Linked DNA regions of Homo sapiens: regions 1, 2 and 3 are each linked to region 4. Evidence: fine-mapped expression QTL. A gene starts in region 4. Each other region holds a variant in brackets. All regions are shown on one strand. Distances are between the middles of the regions. Region 1 has its middle 6.5 kb from the start of COL2A1. Region 2 holds the start of LINC02354 (long intergenic non-protein coding RNA 2354). Region 3 overlaps PFKM (phosphofructokinase, muscle). Region 4 holds the start of PFKM (phosphofructokinase, muscle).

The links. PIP is the estimated chance that this variant, and not a neighbour inherited with it, causes the effect.
Region 1: its variant is the best candidate, but not a certain one, in a credible set for the expression of PFKM in whole blood (INTERVAL, PIP 0.69).
Region 2: its variant is the best candidate, but not a certain one, in a credible set for the expression of PFKM in NK cells (Gilchrist 2021, PIP 0.57).
Region 3: its variant is the best candidate, but not a certain one, in a credible set for the expression of PFKM in whole blood (TOPMed, PIP 0.87).

What each region holds. Positions count from the first base shown.
Region 1 is chr12:48,008,355-48,013,502 of GRCh38, reverse strand. No RefSeq gene overlaps it. Among named protein-coding and RNA genes, the nearest start is that of COL2A1, 6.5 kb to the right of the region's middle. RefSeq lists enhancers at 2,156-2,655, 2,656-3,157. The variant C/T (reference allele first, on the strand shown) is at 1,914.
Region 2 is chr12:47,827,340-47,832,487 of GRCh38, reverse strand. It overlaps LINC02354 (long intergenic non-protein coding RNA 2354), which reads right to left and starts at 3,331. Exons shown (of 3, transcript XR_007063292.1): 1 at 2,958-3,331. RefSeq lists enhancers at 407-456, 4,193-4,372. The variant C/A (reference allele first, on the strand shown) is at 2,139.
Region 3 is chr12:48,140,731-48,145,878 of GRCh38, reverse strand. It overlaps PFKM (phosphofructokinase, muscle), which reads right to left. Exons shown (of 23, transcript NM_000289.6): 14 at 5,008-5,148; 15 at 4,498-4,568; 16 at 4,052-4,139; 17 at 3,813-3,965; 18 at 2,933-3,097; 19 at 2,065-2,126; 20 at 1,722-1,833; 21 at 749-848; 22 at 564-669; 23 at 1-315. The coding sequence ends at 171. Among named protein-coding and RNA genes, the nearest start is that of MIR6505, 11 kb to the right of the region's middle. RefSeq lists a silencer at 2,661-2,835 and an enhancer at 2,467-3,448. The variant G/A (reference allele first, on the strand shown) is at 2,485.
Region 4 is chr12:48,116,538-48,121,685 of GRCh38, reverse strand. It overlaps PFKM (phosphofructokinase, muscle), which reads right to left and starts at 2,322. Exons shown (of 23, transcript NM_000289.6): 1 at 2,280-2,322. RefSeq lists an enhancer at 2,657-2,726.

The DNA of each region.
Region 1 (5,148 bases), 110 kb after region 4:
ATGTTTGCAGTTAGGTTGCATTTGCCAAGTCAGCACTCCTGGGCACTTTGCCTGCAATTGTGACCCTCTGTCACAGGTGAACTCTGTTTTATCTGAGGACTGAGTCTGAATGACCTGGCACGTGTACTTTTCTTTTTTCTTTTTCTTTTTTTTTTTTTTTCAATTAAGATTTCTTTCTTTTTTTCTAAGACAGGGTCTTGCTCTGTCACCTAGGCTGGAGTACAGTGGTACAATCATGGCTCATTGCAGCCTCAACCTCCCGTGCTAAAGTGATCCTCCTGCCTCAGCCTCTCCAGTATCTAGGGCAACAGACATGAATGCCACACGCAGCTAAATTTTTAAATGTTTTTGTAGAGCTAGGGTCTTGCTATATTACCCAGTCTGGTCTCGAACTCCTGGGCTCAAGCGATCCTCCCACCTCAGCCTCCCAAAGTGCTGGGATTACAGGCATGAACCACCACACCCAGCCTCACTTTTCTATTTAAATACATCTTCCCTACAAACTAGAAACTTTTATTAATACAACTAAGTACAAAGATCATGGAGAATCAGGATAGGTAATTTAGAATTAAAGTTACAAAACTCCAAGCAAGATTTAAAGAAACAGAAACACCTATATACAATCAGGTATCTTTTTCACTCACTTTAAACTGTTTCTGACTACAAAATATAGTATTGGCACTATCCAGACATGAGAAGGACCAGCTTTTCCCTCTTATTTTTTTGAGTTAGATCCTTTAGAGCTTCTTATCAAACCAAATTTAAAAGGCCTTGCAGACAGTTTTTTCCCAAATAGTAATCTTCCCACAGTTATATCATACTTATCTTTTTGTTTAAGCTGGTAACTAATGAGAAGGCCAATACCTATCCAAGCCTTCCGAGCCTTTATGATCAATTTAGAAGTTCCTGTTCTTCTTAGGGAAAACTTGTGCTGAAGAATTGGGGCCACTTATCCCCAGTGCCAAGTTTTTTTTTTTTCCAGGTAATATTGAAAGTTTCTTAATCTAGTTTTTATTCCTAACAGATTTTAAAACAATTAAGATGTTTTCAGCGCTATACCTTAAATTCCAGGATATTCATCAATCAACCTAGATCGTATCAGCTATAATCCAAACTCATGCAAACATAACTTAAGACAAAAATTTTTATGAGACCCAAATTAAAAACAGATAAATGATATTGTCTATTTGTGGTACGGCAGGTGTGTGCAGGAAGGGTAAATAAATCAGATGCAGACCAAGAAGAGTAGTACTTGCAATAATAAACATTTACTCTAAGCCTCCCGTGTAAAGCATTCTCCCGAGGCTTTATGTTTGTTACTTCATTTACTGCTCACAACAAGCCCATGAGTAAATTACTATTATCCCTGTTTTACCGATTACTTCTCTGATGCTCAGAGAAGCGAATTCACTTGCTCAAGAGGACGGAGCCAGGAAGTGCAGTTGCAGCATCTAATCTGGGGAAATTAAAAGGCAGCCAACCCTCACTTCTTTGTATTTTTACCCAGGAAAGCATTAAGAATGTGGTAAGTTTCTAGGCACTTTTTTTTTTTCTTGAGACGGAGTTTCGCTCTTGTTTCCCAGGCTGGAGTGCAATGACACAATCTCGGCTCACTGCAACCTCCACCTCCCAGGTTCAAGCGATTCTCCTGCCTCAGCCTCCCAAGTAGCTGGGATTACAAGTGCCCGCCACCATGCCCGGCTAATTTTTTTGTATTTTTAGTAGTTTCTCCATGTTGGTCAGGCTGGTCTCGAACTCCTGACCTCAGGTGATCCGCCCGCCTCGGCCTCCCAAAGTGTTGGGATTACAGGCGTGAGCCACCGCGCCCAGCCTCTAGGCACTTTTAGGATAAAGATGGGCCTCTTGACAGGCTTGCATGGGAGGAAACTGGGGCACATGCAGGATTCTTTCCT[C/T]CTATCCCCCATGAGAAAGAAGCTCATATACCACTGGCTAAGGATTCCAGAGTCGGGTCTCCGCGAGGCAAGGAGCAAAAGCCATTATGAGGACCTCGCTGGTAGCCCAGTTAAGCTGCCAGACGAAACTCACGATTGGAGGTACAGTTACAATTGCAGAGGAAGGCAGGTCTCTGCAGATCCTAAAGATTAGTTACACCATGGGACAGATGTGACCAAGCTGCTTTCACTACCCAAGCCTGTGTCAGGAAGAGCTATTTTCAGTGAAAGGGCAGAACAGAGCGCTTCTGTCCATGACATTGTATTGTGCTACAGCACATCATAGAATGCCACATGACATCACAATATATTATAACTTGTTTACCTTACAGTTTGGCTTTTTGTGTATCCCCCGAGAGGTAGTCATCTCCTTGCATGTAGGATTCATGTCTAATAGAGCTTTCTTTTGTCCCTCCATACCACCTAGCAAGTGCCTGGCGCATAGCTTGTGCTCAACACAGGGGATGAAGAAATGCTGGCCGAGGAATGAGAGGGGGAATGGGACAGGAGGGAGGATAGAGTAAGGGGAGACAGTCGAGCAGGACCCCAAGATTTTGCACCCAGGATTCTGGGAGGGAGAGTGTCAAGGGCAGTGGGTGGGTGATCAGCTAAGGAGCTGGCCTGGAGGCTGGAGTGGAGATCGGGGCGGTGCAGAACACAATGGGGCCCTGGCTGCCTCCGGATAGGTGCTGGGTGTGGGGACAGCTGAGGGGCCCTCATGGGGAAGGGCAGCATGCACTGTCCTGCTCCCTCTCAAGGTTGTTTTTGGCAAAGGAGCTCACTAGAAACTTACCACATGTATGTTCCCTGGGGCTTTTCAGGGACTTCCTAGAGGGCAGGCCCACTGCCCCCCGCCCCCCGCACTGGAGCAGGATAAACTTGGTTTGCAGGGGCCTGGCTTTCTCTGAGGTGGCATCTACCCTACTAGTCCTAGGGACATCATAGTTAGCTCCTTGCTTTCCTTGGTATGTCCCACCTAGGAGGAGTTCATCAGTCAGGAGTCCCTGGGGGGCAGGGCTAAGGGGCCACCACGGGAAGGAGGCTCAGGTGGCTGACTCCGCTCCCCTGCTGGCTCTGCCCTGACACTGTCTCCATGGAATCCAGGGCTCCAGTTCTAATCATGGGTCAGTCTCTTCCTTGCACTGAGCCCAATTCCTACTGGAAAAAAGGGACATAGGAAAAGTGACCCACCACCTGCTTTAAAAAAAGACCGCAGGAGGCTTTACAAAGTCATGCATCCATCATCTCCTTTAGGGTCCTCCATCCATTCCTCTCCTTAAAACTCACTTCTCCTTTCTGCCACCTTTAACTCAGGCTCCTCCTTGCCTTGTCTGCCTCCAGTGCAGGCCTGAGCCCAGTCATGTGTGACTGCAGACCATGCAGACCACACCCCTCTGTTAGCCAGGGTCGTATGGAACTTTCCGTGGACCAAGATTTAGACCAGCACATCTCCAGCCTTCATGGGCATATGAGTTATCTGGAGAGTTTAGTAAAAGCCAACTCTGATTTGGTAGGTTCGGCTTTTCCAACAAGATCCCAGGGTAGGTTGATGCCGCTGGTCCATGGACCACATTTACTATGTGACCGCACTGTGCCAAGCAGGCTTTGCAGGGGAAAAGTTAAGTGTATTAAGTTATGGCCCCTGCTCTCAAGGAGGCATGTGAATAGACTCACATGGGATTTCTTCACATGTTTGAGGGAGGAAGGGATGGATGGATGGACAGATGGATGGATGATGATCTAAAGGCATAACTCCATAGAACTGGCCATACCCAAATGCAATAGGAGTTCAAGGAAGGGAGAGAGATGGGGAGAGAGAGTTCCACCTGTCTCGTGGGTTGTTGACCTCTCAAAGGGTATCCCTTGGAACCCCCATGTTGTGTTATTGCTTGAGAAGTGCCTGGAACAGATGCTCTGTGGCTGTTGGGAATGGTTGTGGTTTACTGTAGAACCATTTGCTTCACATGGAACTTCTGCTGGGAGTGCTCAAACATCTCTGCATTTAAGCATTTGTGTTCTTCCTAGAGCTCAGAACCATCAAGAGCTGATGAGAGAGACAAATGCTCCTTAAAGGCAGAAAGCTACCCACCTTAAGAAAATGCAATATTTCGCACGACTTTTGTTGTCTTTGTTTTTAAAGTGAAATGGGAAGATCATTTCTGTATAAAAATACAGACATTTCTTCAAAATGTAAGCCTTTAAAAAGCCCAGACACCTTTATCTTTTCCCGCAAAGGTCTAGCTAGTAGGAGGTAAGAAGAAGAGGGGAAAGTGAGAAGAAACGTAGATCTGAGCCTGACTCGGTGGCATTCAAGGAGTCCTCCATGTCTGGCCTTGCCTTCACCCCTTACTGCCATGTCTTATTCCCAGGGCCCTGCAGATGGCTCCACATTGTCCTGGGGCCACTGCCATGTCTTCTGGTGCATCTGCCCTTCGTTGCTTCCATTTGGGAGCCATCCTGCCCTCTCACTGTACCTCTGCATTTCAAACCCCCACCCATGCTTGGAGACATGCTTCTCTTAGGAAACCTCCCCCCAGCTTACTCCATGGCTTCCAGAATGCCATTCTTTCTTTCCTTTCTTTCTGTTTCTTTCTTCTTCTTTTTTTTTAGGGGGTTGGGGAGAGTGGGATACCTTTTTTGCAGCATTTTGTACAATCATTTTTTTCCTATTTCCCCTACAGATGCAGAGGTGGTATCTAAATCCTCTCTGTATCCCCATCTCATACAGAAGTAGGTGCTCAGTACGAGTCCTAAGCTGAATTTGTATGGCACTAGGACAGGATGGAGGAGACTGGGTGGGATTCTTGGTGCTATTTGCATTTGAGAATACATAGTAACACATTTATGCTCCTATGGAATGGAATGTACACCATAAATCTGGAAAACCCTATCCTGGACAGTCTTGATTCTGTTACTCTGCCCCCAAAATGCCAAAGGAAAACATAAACACATCTTGAAAGACTGTCTGAACGGAGCCCAACCAACAGAAGCTGAGTGTCACTGAGTAAGCTGGGCTCACCACCCCCAGGCACGGCTGCTGTGTGAAGTCTGTGCATTCACCACCTGCCATATTTGGGGTGGGCTTACCTCTTTGGAATGTGAATCCTTCTTCACTTTATCACTATTTTTAAATGGGATTTGTGTAGAGGAAGAGAAAGATATCTTTTCTTTACAGCCTGTCTACAAATATCTTTCC
Region 2 (5,148 bases), 290 kb after region 4:
GCCCGGGTAGAGTTCCTGGGGGCGCCGTGAAGGTGATGGCCCCTGCATCTCATGTCACCTTCAGGGGGTGATGTGAAACAGCAGGTGGCCGACCACAGCCCGCCAACCCCCACCCCAAAGCAGAGAGGCCCTCATACCCGCTGAGCTCACCTCACTGTGATGCTCTGTTCCTCCTGCAGTCAGCCCTGTCCTCTGGGGGCTGTCCCCACAGGCGCCTGCCATGGCCTGCTCCTCAGCAGTAGTAGAGGAGACTATGGAGCTCCAGGAGCCTCCCATATATGGGAGGGAATCTGCAGTGAGCACCTGGCCATCACCCCTCACGGTGGGCTTTTTCCTATCAGGAGAATGCTGAGTTGATACCCACAGTGACCGCACCTGCCTTGCGGTCGGAGCTCAGTCTATTAAGTTGCCAGATAAATGCATTTGTGGCCTCTGGAAGGTTGTCAGGGCCCTTGCTATAGCTGAGACCCAAATCTCAGCTTCTGGTCAACCCTCATTCCCGCTCTCCGCAATGTTAAGACTCATTAAATGAGACCAAAACCATATATACCCATTCCACCCTACATAATCATTACCTATGACACATATTTCCTCTTCACCTTCTCCTCCATGCCTATATGTTTTTTAATACAGTTGCAATCATGGGGTATGTACCAATCTCTATTCTCTTGTGATGCTGTGTTGCATATAAACATCTTCCTAACAGCTTCATAGTTTTCTATTAAGTGGAAATATAGTATCATAATTTACCTCCACAATTTTCCAATCATAAGTGTTCAAATTGTCTCTAATTTTCTATATTATAGGCAGTGTGATGGGGGACATCATTAGGCACATACTCCGCTCCTCCTCCCCCAATTTTGACTATAGAAATCTAGTTTAGGATACACTGGGTGGGGTTATTGAGCCAAAGGGTAACAGCACATTATAGCTCTTACTATATATTGCCAAACTGATTTCAAAAGAGGTTACGCCATTACCGACAGCACACACACTTCACCGAGCTCTCGCTAATGTTTCAAAAAGGCACCTACCTTTGTCTCATTTTAATTGGCATTACTTTGAGGACGATCAGGTTGAACATACCCCTACCTCTGCTTGTGAGTTGTGTTTCCTCTGTACCAGGAGAGTCTGTTTCTGGGCTTTGAACTTTAGTCTCCACTGTTCTAGTGCTTCTTAACAGTTTGTGTGAGCTCTCTTTATAAGAATGATTTTAGGGCCGGGTGCGGTGGCTCATACCTGTAATCCCAGCACTTTGGGAGGCCGAGGCAGGCAGATTGCCTGAGGTCAGACCAGCCTGGCCAACATGGTGAAACCCTGTCTCTACTAAAAATATAGAAATTAGCCGGGCTTGGTGGCGGGTGCCTGTAGTCCCAGCTACTCGGGAGGCTGAGGCAGGAGAATCACTTGAACCTGGGAGTCGGAGGTTGCAGTGAGCCCTGATCATGCCATTGCACTCCAGCCTGGGCCACAGAGCAAGACTTCATCTCAAACAAAAACAAACAACAACAAAAAAATGATTTTAAAGCATTGTCAACTGCAACCGTGTGCGAGTCTCTCCTTCTTGATATTCTCTCCCACTTGGGATTCCGATGCACTTCCTCTTGCTTCATTGAAATCTGTGACTGCTCCCGGCCTGCTCCAGCTTCCACTCCTCGCCCATCTGAAGTCTTTGTTTTCTCAGGTTTCTGTATTTAGCCATCTTCCCTGCCCTCCCCTTCTCTCCTCTCTTCTCCCCTGCTCTTGTGGTGTCATTCATTCCTACAATTTCCTCTCTCACTGATGACCTCCAAATTCTTCCCTGAGCTCCAGATACCAACTGTCCACTCAACAACCCCCCTTGCTCATCCCACCAACACCTCAAACTCCACCTGTGCAAAGCTCCATTCTGCATTTTCCTCCAAATTTGCTTCTCCTCCCATATTCCTTAACTCAGCTACTCAAATACCTTTGGGTTTGGAGTCGCTTTTGGAAGAGGAAAGAGGAAGGTGGAGGCTAATGCGCCTGAAGAGGTAATCGGATTCTATCAACCTTCTGCTCAGAGAAGGAGCACTGGGAAGGGCAGGAGAAGGCCAGTTGTCAGGGAAGATGCTGCTCTATGCCTCAATTTCCTTGCCTGCCTGGACACTAAAACGGAT[C/A]CAGGTCTAGAGATAGATGCTTGAAACCCAAAGGGAGTGGTCACCCTCCTAGAGCAAATTAACCCTTAACACTGGCCTCACCAGCTTTTTCCTTCACCTCTTGAGCCTCTTCCCCAATAAGAGACTGGAAGGGATGAAGAAGAGGTAAAGCTATAAGTCTAAACTTGTGCTGTCCATACAGTAGCCAGTGGCCACATGTGGCTACTAAGCACTTGAAATGTGGCCAGTCAGAATTGAAATGTGCTGTTAGTATAAAATATACACTGGCTTTCAAACACTTAGTATGGAAAAAAAATGTAAAAGATTTCATTAGTAATTTTTTATTTTGATTGCATACCAAAATAATGTTTTAGATTTACTATATTAGGTTACATAAATATACTACTAAAATGAATTTCACCTGTTTATTTTTCCTTTTTTTGATGTGGCTAATAGAAAATAAGTTACATATGTGGCTCACATTCCGTTTCTATTGGACAGCGCTTATCTAGACCCTCCCAGCAGGTGAAGTGTGGGGCTCCAGGCTCGGGAGACAAGGGCAGTACATGACAGACACAGGTGCAGGCCCTACTACAGGTGTGGGCCAGCCAGAGCTCCAACCAGATGTCTCCAGACAGACACTGAAGGACAGATTCTCAGTGGCCAGCCTCACTCAGGCGAAGCAAAGCCAGGCAACATTTCCTGGATAATTCCTTCAGTCTTTGACTTCATGAGGGTCTCTGGACTGAGGCTTAGCTCTCCTGAGCTTGTCCCTGTAGATGCCCCATTATTCTGGAAAAACACTCACCCAGGACCACCCAGACCTTTGGATCCCCTCACCTTGATAGTTCATTGGAAGATTTTTCTATCACTCCACCTGGGCCAGGTCCTGGATCTCTTTCCAGAAGCCCAGAGGTGTCCTTCCTCCTGTCTAGAGCCCTCCCTCCCACGCACTCTGTCTTAGGCTTAGCTCACCACAGGCTGGGAGGGGATGAGAGATGGAGGTGTGCTCAACTTGACCTCGAACTTCCATGTACACTACCTGGGTCACAGGCACATTTTGAGCTCCATTTCTAATGCCTATAGAAGGGAACAGGAGGGGACGAGGGGTGGCAGATATACTCCATTGGGCTGCCCTTCTCTGTCTCATTCTCCTTTTCCTGTGCCCCGGCTGCGCCATTTGAGGGCACTGAAGCTGGGGCCCAGTCTGCGTGGGTCTGCCCCTCCCTCTCCTTGCCTAGATGACTCCACCTCTCCCAGGTCCTGGCTGGGATCCGAAGGCCCCAGGCAAGTGGGGGAAGGGGAGCCACTCCCACTTTCCCAGAAGCTGCTGCTGCCTCTTCCTGTTTTGCTAAAACTCTGGCTCTGGACTCAAGCAAAGAGGGGGAAGTCACCAGCTCCTGCCCCCCGCCCCAAAAGGTCAACCTTGCCCCCCTGGTCCTCTTATTTATAGCCCCCACTACCCACCACCCCCCCACCCCCCGGCCCCAGGCCCTGGCTAAGGAGCTGGATGTCTCCTCCCTCAAATAGCAGCTGTGGCCATTGCCCCAGGGATACAGCCAGATGGGCAGATCACTCCAGATGTGCAGTGTTTCGGGAGGGGAGGCCAGGCCCTTTCTGCAGTCCCTGTGGTACTCCCCGCAGCCTGGTCCTGGTTCCCCTCAACTTCAAGACAACACTTGAGGATTTCAGGAGGATCAGGAAGGTTGCACCTATTTTCCCATTTCTGTAGCCTGGCCAAGCTACCCTGTATACCCTAGAAAGGTCAGCTTGGGCGATAGGCCCTACTGGATTCATTTGCATAAATCAGCTCAGTGCTCACTTTGAGACCTCAAATTATAGAGGAAAACAGGCTTAGGGAGACAGAAGAGACAGGACACTGTCTCTCTTCTATTACTGATGTGAGCATTGGAGCTCTGTCCCTAACAGCCCAATGTGTGCCAGGCACTGTAGTTAAGTACTTCATGTCCCAATCTCATCGGTCCTCGCAAAACCCTAATATAGCAGGCACTTCATACCCTAATCTGCAGATGGGAAACCAAGACTCCTCAAGGTTAAATAATATACGTAAGGTCAAGCAGTGGGGAAGCAACAAGCTCCAGCCCAAGCAGCTCGACACCAAATCCTTGCTCTTAACCACAGTACAACACCTCCTCACTCTGTCCATTCTTCTGGGTACTTTTAAATGATCTCTTTTTTTCTTTCTTTCGTTTTGAGGTGGAGTCTCACTCTGTCACCCGGGCTGGAATGCAGTAGCACGATCTCAGCTCACTGCAAACTCTGCCTTCTGGATTCAAGCAATTCTCCTGCCTCAGCCTCCGGAGTAGCTGAGATTACAGGTGCCTGCCACCACGCCTGGCTAATTTTTGTGTTTTTAGTAGAGACGGGGTTTTGCCATGTTGGCCGGGCTGGTCTTGAACTCCTGACCTCAGGTAATCTGCCCACTTCAGCCTCCCAAAATGCTGGGTTTACAGGTGTGAGCCACCACGCAGGCCTAAATGATCTCTTAAAAGCTCAGTGCAGGGGGCCAGGCATGGTGGCTCACACCTGTAATCCCAGCACTTTGGGAGGCCGAGACAGGTGGATCACCTGAGGTCAGGACTTCAAGACCAGCCTGGCTAACATGGTGAAACCCTGTTTCTACTAAAAATACAAAAAAATTAGCCAGGTGTGGTGGTGTGTGCCTGTAATCCCAGCTACTCGGGAGGCTGAGGCAGGAGAATCGCTTGAACCCGGAAGGCAGTAGTTGCAGTGAGCCGAGATTGCATCATTGCACTCCAGCTTGGGCAACAAGAGCCAAACTCTGTCTAAAAAAAAAAAAAAATGCTCAGTGCAGGGAACCCTGGAGCCCAGGACTCAGGGCCTGCCCAAGGGAGATGTCTGCACATTGTCTCTGCCTCCTCTGCCTTCCCACCCCTAGCCATTTAGACCAAGCTGGAGTGAGGGATCTGTTGAGGCAGAGATTTCTAGAATCACTGTTCTGGGTTTCCTCAGACCCCAAGCACAAAGGAGAGCAGGTGAGGGCAGAACT
Region 3 (5,148 bases), 24 kb before region 4:
CCACCCACTGCCTGCTCCTCCAGCTCCTGGCCAGAACTGGTCATGGCTGCAAGGTACAGAATAAAAGGAAACCTAATGAAAAAAACAGCTAAAACACTGAGAAGATGTGGACTTATTAGGGTGTGAGCTGACCATGATCAGGTAATCTATTCCCCTCACTCCAGAGAGGTTTAGACGGCAGCTTCCCCGGACCGCTTCCGGGTGATGTGCTCCAGGTGGGCATGGTCTGAAGTGTCCAAGTCAATCTCGTACTTGGCTAGGATTTTGAGGATGGGCCTCAGTTTCAGCCACCACTGTTCCTTGGGGATTCGATGCCTACAGAGGAATGAGGTAGATGATGATATAATCTTTTAGCACCCCAATCAACTTCTACCAAAGGTTTATAGGAAGAAGTTAGACAGAAGAGGTTAGATTTAGGACATGTGCATCACATCTGAAATGGGTAAGAATACAGGTGTTACTCCTTAAAAAAAAAAAAGAATTAAAGACAGTGAACAGGTTGAGGACAGTAGAGCTTGAAACTACCAGGGAAAAGAACCACTCCAGGAAGCAGATGTACTCACTCAAAATCTGTCTGGTCCTTCAGCTCAGCCACTGGTTGGAAGACCAGAGCCCTCTTACGCATCCCCAGAACACAGCCCGAATCTGGAGTATTGGCAAAGATCCGCCCTGCAATGAGGGATGGGCAGTCAGCTTCTATACTGGGGAACCAGCCTCTATAGAGGGCACTCGCTCTCACCCCACCTACCATTACGGTAACTCTCTTTGATTTTCCCAGACATCCAGTTCATAGCCTTGGCGCCCATCTTAGTGGCAAAATTCCTATCAAATGGGGTTGGGCTCCCACCCTGGAGAAAGAAACATAAAAATTACAGAGGGAAGGACTCTAATGAAGTGGCAGAGATATCTAGACACACAGAGAAAAAAAGAAAGATGGGCCCCAGGCTTACAGCCCAAAACAGGAATCCAGAAGTCAAACTATGAAAGGGTGCCCTGAGGCAGTGCCAGGATCCAAGGCAAGCTGGCCCAGCAAATTTGGCCATGTATCAGATATAATAACAACTAATTAAAGATGATTGGCCCCACAATCCCCTCTTTTAGCTCCACAGCTGCCAGATCCTGTTTTAGTTTTATTGGCCAATGGGTCAGCTGCCTGCCCCTCTTCAGCCCAGCAGCTTTTGTTGATCACTGTCAATGATGACATAAAAGTGTTTTTTTTGTGGCCCAATCTGGCTGCCCTTGGTAGCACCTCAGAATTAATATAAAACATCATACAGATTTCCTTTGAATTAAGAGGAAGCAGGTGGGAAAGTGGGAATGTTTGGAGACATTTTTGTTACAATTGGGAGTGAGAGGGAGGTGCTACTGGCATCTAGTGGGTAGAGACCAGGGATGCTGTGCAACTGTCCTACAGTGCATAGAACAGCCACCCATGACAAATTATCATCCAGCCCCAAAAGGCAAAGCTGCCAAGGTTGAAAAGCCCTCCCATGAGGGCTTTTGAAAAGGATAGACCATATAATCTCTAAAGTCATTTCCAGGATAAAGATGTTTTGATTCTATGACTGTAAGAGACTGCAGGCCCATGCTCTATGATGGCACTGACAGGCTCCTCCAGAAGACTGGAAAAGGCCAGTGGAAGCCTCAGTGGCTGTTGGCAGGTATGGCTGTTGGCAGGTATGGCTGTCTGATGAAGGGCATGACTACGGTGTCTTCCCTACCTGCTGCATGTGACCAAGCACATTCTTCCTGCTGTCGAAGATGCCCTTCCCCTCCTCAGAGTACAGGTTGAAAATGAAGTCAGTGGTATAGTTCTCATTGCACTTTTCATTCCTGCCAGGTGGAGACCAAAAGCCTGTGACTCTGTGGTTGGCTTCCCATCCCCCATTTCTGCCTTTGTTCTTTCCTTTCAATTTTTATCTCCTCCAAGGATTCAAGGGATAGGCTGGCCCCCTCCCTTTATATCTACAGATTCCTCAGGGTGTCCCAACAATGGCCATTCTATGGGTTTGAGCCAAAGCTTATTTTTCTTCTTCATTTAGGAACAAACCATGGATGAGGTACCTTAACACCAAGCCCCTTTTCACAGTTGTTTTCATCTTTTGCACCAGATGTTCAACATTTGCCTGAAAATGAAAGAGTAAATCCTAAGCCTAACTGGGAATGGATAAGGTTGGGTATAAATCATCTTCCACACCACACCTCTCCAGGAAGGAAGAGACACATGGAAGAGAGTTGTTTACAATCCTGGGCCTGAACTGTGCCTAATTCCTGTAAGAAGCTCAGTGTGGACTGAAATTTAAACAATGACTCCAAATGAGACAGAACTGGAAGAGGGAGCACTACAGACAGCTGCAGTAACTGTCAGTGTTCAGCCCCTCACCCTCTCCAATCTCCCTTTCCAAGCCTTTCTGGTTCCCCTTGCCTCAGAGGGCTGACTTGTGGTCACAGTGTCAGTGTTGACACTTTATATCTCTGTTTTGA[G/A]AGAGTATCTCTCTCAAAAGCAGAATGACAGCAAGGGAAATCTGAAGGGGAGACATGATGTAGTAAAAAGATCACTGACTTTCTCAACCACTTAAACCATCTGCTCACTTAGGAGTTTAGAAAAGTTTTTTAACCTCTCTAAACTTTCTATGTTATATGGAGATAGTATCTTCTTTGCATGTCTATTGTGAAGATAAAATGCAAAAATGCCCATAAAGGGCTTAGCACCAGGTCGCCTGACTCAAAATCAGCATTCCAACAACAGTAGCTGCGGTCATGCATATGAGGTGACACCAGAGAATGCCTGCATAGTGCTCTTTCTGGTCTTCACAGGATTCTACAGACCAATCAGCTCGGTCCTCAACTTGAGCTCTCATAGTTCAGATCACTGTGGAAACAGTCTGGAGACAGGGGAGAGCTATCTAGCAGGCTCTGGGTGGCCAGCTACCTGCAGGTCTCGAATGGTGAAGGGCTCCTCAAAAATGTAGGCAGCATCGGCCCCAGCTGCCAGTCCAGCCATGGTAGCCAGGTAGCCACAGTAGCCACCCATAGTCTCAATGATAAACACCCGACGCTTGGTGCCAGCTGCTGACTGCTTGATGCGGTCACAGGTCTGCAAGGACAATGGGTTATAGTTAGAAAGACATGATCAGGGGCCTGATTCTTATCACTCTTTAATCTTTGCCATTAATTAAACCCTGGAACTATATTCTCCATAGGCTAGCAGGGCCCTTAGAGCTCATCAAGTTCTTGCATTTAGGGTAACAGGCATATTTGCCAACCTCACTGCAGAACGTCTCTCCTGGGAAGAAAGCTGTACCTATCCTTTCTACTGCTCAGAAAATTAGACTGCATGATCTCAGAAAGAAAAAAAAAAACAAACAAAACATTTGGTATTCAGGGTACTGGTGCATTTCTAGGTGAGGAAACTGAACACTTTGTCACCCAGGCTGGAGTAAAGTGGCACGATCTCTGCTCACTGCAACCTCCGCCTCCCAGGTTCAAGCAATTTTCCTGCCTCAGCCTCCCAAGTAGCTGGGATTACAGGCGCCTACCACCACACCCAGCTAGTTTTTGTATTTTTAGTAGAGATGGGGTTTCACCATGTTGGCCAGGCTGCTCTTGAACTCCTGACCCCAAGTGATCTGCCTGCCTTGGCCTCCCAAAGTGCTGGGATTAGAAGTGTGAGCCACCATGCCCAGCTGAAGAATCATTTTCAAACATTCCCATTTGCTTGATATAAAGAGTAGCTCACTGTTTGGGACCACACTCAGTTTAAGGATTATAATCCTGGCCAAAAGGGATGGGAAGTGGTGATAGGCTCTCACTGTGCAGATAGTATTGAGTGCTGTGTCAGCCCCAACGCTGAAGTCTGAGCCAGGGACATTGTTGGAGACTGTAGCAGGAATGACCACAAATGGGATGCAGAGCTCATCAAACTGCTTCCTGCCCTCCATCAGTTCCAGGCCCCCTGTGTAAGCCTAAGAAGAAGAGAGCACAAGGGCAGGATTGGGGAGAGGGAGAGGAGGTAGGAGGGAGAGAGGAAGAAATGGTGGCAGGCACTCACCTCAAAGCCCCCAATGATGACAAGGCCCTGAATGTTAAACTTAGTTATATTGGCACTGATCTGTTCAAAGCTCTTCTTGGGTAGAGTCCTAGTTGATCAGTGATGGCGGGGAGGGGAAGGGGAATTGGAATTTGGGGAAGAGACAGGAAAATTGAGGGGGAGAAAAGCTAGAGTTAGAGGCACTTTATTTTTAATTTCTTGACCTGTGCCGCCCTCCCTAGCCCACCCTCTCAGTCCTATCCAAGGATACATACTGGAGCTCTAAGTTGCCAGAGCTGCTAAAGATGTTGAGATGGGCATGTCTGCCCTCATGGCAGCAACTGTGAGGTTGAGGGTGGAGGACCCAGACAACAGGGTGGTTGAAGCAGACCATGGCATAATGAACCCACATCCAAGGGCAACTTTAAGAGGTGACTGGGAGGAGGTGCCTCTGCAGTGCTACTTACCTTTTAGTCCCAAGTTTAGAGCCACCTTGGCCAGTCCAGCCCCCAACATAGCTCCAGCCAGCTTCCTCTATCTGTGGGGATAAGCCACAGAGCTCTGCACAAGGCTAAAGCACTAGGAGGCCTGTGTGGGACTGGTGCCACTGCTTGAGTTCTAACCCTACCCCTGGATCCCCCTTGGTTGGAAAAGGTACACCAGGTATTAGCTTTTCCCCACGCACTCAACTTCTTCTACCCTTACTGCTCATTCACAAATATTAAGCATCTACCTATGCCAGGCACTGTGCTGAGCTTTGGGACAGAGAATTAAATAAGACATGTTGTTTGCAATGGTTCACTGCAGTAATTCCTGCTGTTCCTACTGCCCTAGTATTAAATATCTACTTCTGCCTGGACCCTGAGAGAGGAGAGAGAGGTAGTGAGGAACAGAGGAAGCCAAGAGAATGGACAGGTCATTCTTGCTACACTTATCTTCCCCATGACTGCTCCTAGGTCCCAGAATAGTCCCCATACCTGCCCCTTGGCCAGGCCCTCGAAACCATCATGGACAACGAGCACTCGGTTGCCCTGGATAAGGCCAATCCTCACAGTGGAGCGAACAGCAGCATTCATGCCTGCAGCCGGAGCCCCCACGTTCATCACAGCCACTGTGTG
Region 4 (5,148 bases):
CACACAAAATAAACCTTCATAGGAAGGTCATAGGTCCCTAGGCTTCAGTGGAGATGTGTATTCATTCACAGGAACCCAAGTTTTACGGGCAGCTTGTGCTTGCTTCTACCCTGCATTTGGAGAACTCAGGGTAGCTGCCTATAGAGACATAAGTCACATAAACACCCAAATCCACACAAATAATAAAATAATGCAATGAGACATATATGAAGACATACATTCACAAACATGCATTGTGTTAACAGACAGAGATTAATGAACGTACTACATATAATCAGTACTAACAAATAAGGTCCCAACTTGTTGGGTTGGCATTCGAAGCTTCTACAATTTAGCCCTTGCATATAGCTTCAACTGTTGGTCCTATAGATTCTCTGCTCCATTGTCACCTGAACATTACTTTGCTCTTCCCACTTTAGTGCCTGGGCACACTGCATCCCTTGTCCAGGTGGCTACCCTGGCCCTTTCCACAGATTCACATCCCATTCCATCATTTAAGACCAGTGATAGTTGTACCCTTATTAAACCTTCACTGATTACCACAGGTCAAGGAAACCTTCTTTTGGACTTCCTCTAACCACATGTTGTCTAAACTGGATCACTGCCTCCCAGGTTCAAGTGATTCTCCTGCCTCAGCCTCCCGAGTAGCTGGGATTACAGACATGCACCACCACACCCGGCTAATTTTTGTATTTTTAATTGAGACGGGTTTTCACCATGTCGGTCAAGCTGGTCTTGAACTCCTGACTTCAGGTGATCCGCCCACCTTGCCTCCCAAAGTGCTGGGATAACAGGCATAAACCACCATGCTCGGCCTGCTTTATGTGGCATTTTAATAGTTTCGTACGCACTGATAAGAGGGTTGGACTAGATCAGGGGTCAGCATACAACAGCCTGTAGGCCAAATCCAGCCCTTCTCACATTTTTGTATGGCAGTAAGCTGTGAAAGGTTTTTATATTTTTTAGTGGTTGCAAAAAGTACTTCATGACATGTGAAAAATGTTAAGTTCAAATTTCAGTATGTGCACTACCTTCGTTCATTCACGTATTATCATGGATGTTTTTGTGCTACAACAGCAGAATGGATATTGTGACAGAGACTCATAAGCCTGCAGTTTAAAATATTTACTATCTGGTCTTTTACAGACGAAGTTTGCCAACCACTGGACTGGATGGCTGCTAAAGTCATTTTTCCTAACTAGACTGAGAACTCCTCCAGGGCAGGGATCATGATCATTTTTAAAAACTCTCCCACAGCTCACTAAAGACTTGCAAAGTCTATGCACATTACAGGACCCCAATAAATACTTGTTGAAAACGTTAATGAACTGATGAACTACATGAAATACAAATATATGAAAAATGTAAAATCGGCTTAGATACAGATATACCTCCATATTCTACTTTAAAACACACTTTTAACTTGGACTTGAGAAATCATATAGTGACAAACAGTGAAAGGAACATAGAGACACGCGTGACTAGAGACGCTCTTATTTAACTGGAATGTTCATGTCCAAATTTCTGCTGTTTTCCAAAAAGAAAGATTAAGTGACTAGGGCAAATAGGAAGGCAAAAAGGTGGAAAGGAAAAAACAAGACATCTGGGTATGCTGATCCCTTTCCTCCCGTTTTTTCTTCTCATTCACTCTTGGAGCTCATGACGGGGGCAGAATCCCACACAGAGCTCTTCCACCCCTGGAAGCGTCAGTGAGGGAGAAAATTCGCCATAACAAGAGGAGTTTAAGAGTGCTGACCTGTAAAAACCGCTCATATTCTTCTCCTGAAATCTCTAAGACAGTTATAGAGGCACAGGACACAGAAATTCATGCAGACTCATGTATAAGCATCCCTTACAGACCCACAATGACACGCACGTAGACAAAAACAGACAGATATTAAAACATATCTCTAAAATCACGTGCGTATATAAGCACGCGGCAGGGAGGAACAGAAAAGCAGCATCATAGGAGCACTGATTTGAATTGGGTGAGTGCCAGGGTAGGGTCAGGCAGCCAAGGGCAACCCGTCCGAGCCCCACCCACCCATCCCAGATTCCTGGGGAATGCAGCTGAGCCTGCAAGCGGAGGGGACTGGCCAAGGGGCTAGGATCCTTCACGACTGCCCTGCCCATCCCCCTCTCGGCTCCAGCTTAGGATGCCGTATCTCTTCTTTTCCTTTCTGCTCCTTTCAGTTCTCCCTACCGCCTGCTCCCGGCCCATACCTTCCCACCTCACTCCCAGCTCTCCCCCTTGCTCTTCACTCAATGGCCCCTCTTGCCTTTTAGTCTTAGCTCTCCTCCGCCGCTGCTTTCTTGCAGATTGTCCTTGGGAAAGGGGGGAGGGGTGATGGACGAACATGGGGAGGAGCCAGGTGGAGGCAAAGAGGGAGGGGGAAGGAGGAGAGGCTTCCCAACCTCCACTAACAGATGCTGACAAGAAGGCTCCGCCTCCTCCTGCTTGCCTTTCTCCTCCTCTTCCTCCTCCCCCTAAGTACTCAGCTCAGATATGGCAGCGGCTTAGTTCCTTCACTCCCCAGAGTCCTGGGGTCCTCATATCTATCTCGAGAGCCATCAGCATCTTTATTTAATGGGAATAATAAATTATTTCGTTGCTTCTCTTGTTTTCAACACAGAACTTTTTCCTAGTCCAGACTGCCTGAGACACCTTGCATTCCAACATCTTCAGCAACTGCTAATAAAACCTGCCCCTGTGGCCCTCTATCCGTCTTTAAGCAAACATTTCTTGGGAGTCTGTGTGCTAGATTTTGCATTAGGTGCCGAGAGGTTTAAAAAAAATAAATATAGTCCCTGCCTTTGAGGAACATTGAATTATGACATCTTCTATAGAATAGCCTCAAAAACTTCTTTTACATTTACATTACCTTTCTCAGAGAAAGTACAGAAAAGCTAGCTATTTGGAATGAAAGTGTCAAGAGGGAAGGGCGTGTCTGTGAGGCCACTTCTCAAGCCTGCAGTGGGGAGGGATGGGGGCGGGATTCTGGCAGTGAAGCAAACATATAAATTGGGCTTCACAGCAAACAGGATCCACTCTGGAAAAAGGGTCAGATGCTCCCAGAGCAAGAGGTGCATCCATTACTCAAGTCTCACCTTCCCTTTGCTTCATTGTCTCCACAGTCGGGTCTCCTCTTGCTTTTACCACTGCCCTCTTCCTCTTGCTTACTTGTATCTCTACCTCTGCACATTCTGGCACAAACAATACAAATGCAAGTGACTAGGAGATAAAACCCCATTTGACTACACAAAATAAAAGCATTTGTTCTCCAAATTATACCATCAAGAAAGTGGAAAGACAACCCACAGAATGGGAGAAAATATTTGCAAATCATGTATCTGATAAGGGGCTGGCATCCAGAATAAATAAAGAACTCATTTGCAACTCATTAAGAATGTAAACCAAAAATAAAATTATAAGCCCCTCAACCATCTGAATAGACCCCTCCTCTCAGTCAAGGGTATTCCAAAGTTAATCTGAAAAACTAGTTCAGACGTTGATGGAAAGGGGAAGCCAGACACACTTCATTATATGCTCCTCCCTTTTGGAATTACTGATAGAACAGACTCTTTAAGTCTGATAAGAAACATTTACAATCTATTCTCTGAAACCTGCTACCTGGAAGCTTTGTCCACCTGATAAAACCTTGGTCCTCACAGATTGCTTTTCTATTAAGTCTTTGGACAATAACTTAACTCTTTTCACCAATTTCCAATCAGAAAATCTTTGAATCTACCTATGACCTGGAAGCCCCGCTCCCCCCTCCCTGCTTCCAGTTATCCCGCCTTTCTGGACTAAATGAATGTACATCTTACATATATTCATTGATACCTTATATCTCCCTAAAATTTATAAAACCAACTTGTGGCCCGACCATCTTGAACACATGTTCTCAGGATCTCCTGAGGGCTGTGTCATGGGGGAGCTATTGGTCACTCGTATTTGGCTCAGGATAAATCTCTTCAAATGTTTTACAGTTTGACTCTTTTCAGTGACAATAAAAAGAAAATACCTCAATTTAAAAATGGGCAAAAGAGTTGACCAAAGAAGATATACAGGTGGCAAATAAACATGAAAAGATGTCAACATCATATGTCATTAGCGAACTGCAAATTAAAACAGTGAGACACCACTACACACCTATTAGAATGATTAAATGATTAAAATTCAAAAATCCAAATGCTAATGAGAATGTGGAACCACTGGAACTCTCATTAATTGCTGGTGGGAATGCACAATGGTACAGTCACTGTAGAAGACAGTTTGACAGTTTTTTACAAAGCTAAATATTGTCTTACCACATGATCCAGCAATAGCACTCCTAAGTATTTAGCTGAATGAGCTGAAAATTATGTCTGCACAAAAAACCTGCACATGAATGTTTATAAAAGCTTTATTCATAATTGCCAAAAGCTGGAGGCAACCAAGATGTCCCTCAAAAGGTGAATAAACAAACTGTGATACAGCTATACAATGGAATATTTTCCATCAATAAAAAATTATCAAGCCAGGAAAAGACATAGTGAAACGGGCCAGTGTGAAAAGGCTGCATACTGTATGATTCCAACTGTATGACAGTCTGGAAAAGGTAAAACTACGGAGACAATAAAAATATCAGTTGTTACTGGGGCTTGGGATAGAGAAGGAGAGATTAATAGGTGGAGCACAGGGGATTTTAGGGGCACTAAAATGATTCGGTATGATGCTATAACAGATACATGACATACATTTGTCATGACATTATGCATTTGTCAAATTCATAGAACTATACAATCCAAAGAGTAAACCCTAATGTAAACTATGGAACTTAGCTAATAATAATGTATAAATATTGGGTTATCAATTATCACAAGTGTACCACACTAATGCAAGATGTTAATAAGTAGGGAAAACTGGCCAGGCACAATGGCTCACACCTGTAATCCCAGCACTTTGGGAGGCCAAGGCAGGTGGATTGTTTGAGCTCCGGAATTTAAGACCAGACTGGGCAACATGGTGAAACCCCGTCTCTACAAAAATACAAAAAATTAGCCAGGTGTGGTGGCACATGCCTGTAGTCCCAGCTACTCAGGAGGTTGAGGCACAAGAATGACTTGAGCCTGGGAGGCAGAGCTTGCAGTGAGCCGAGATTGCGC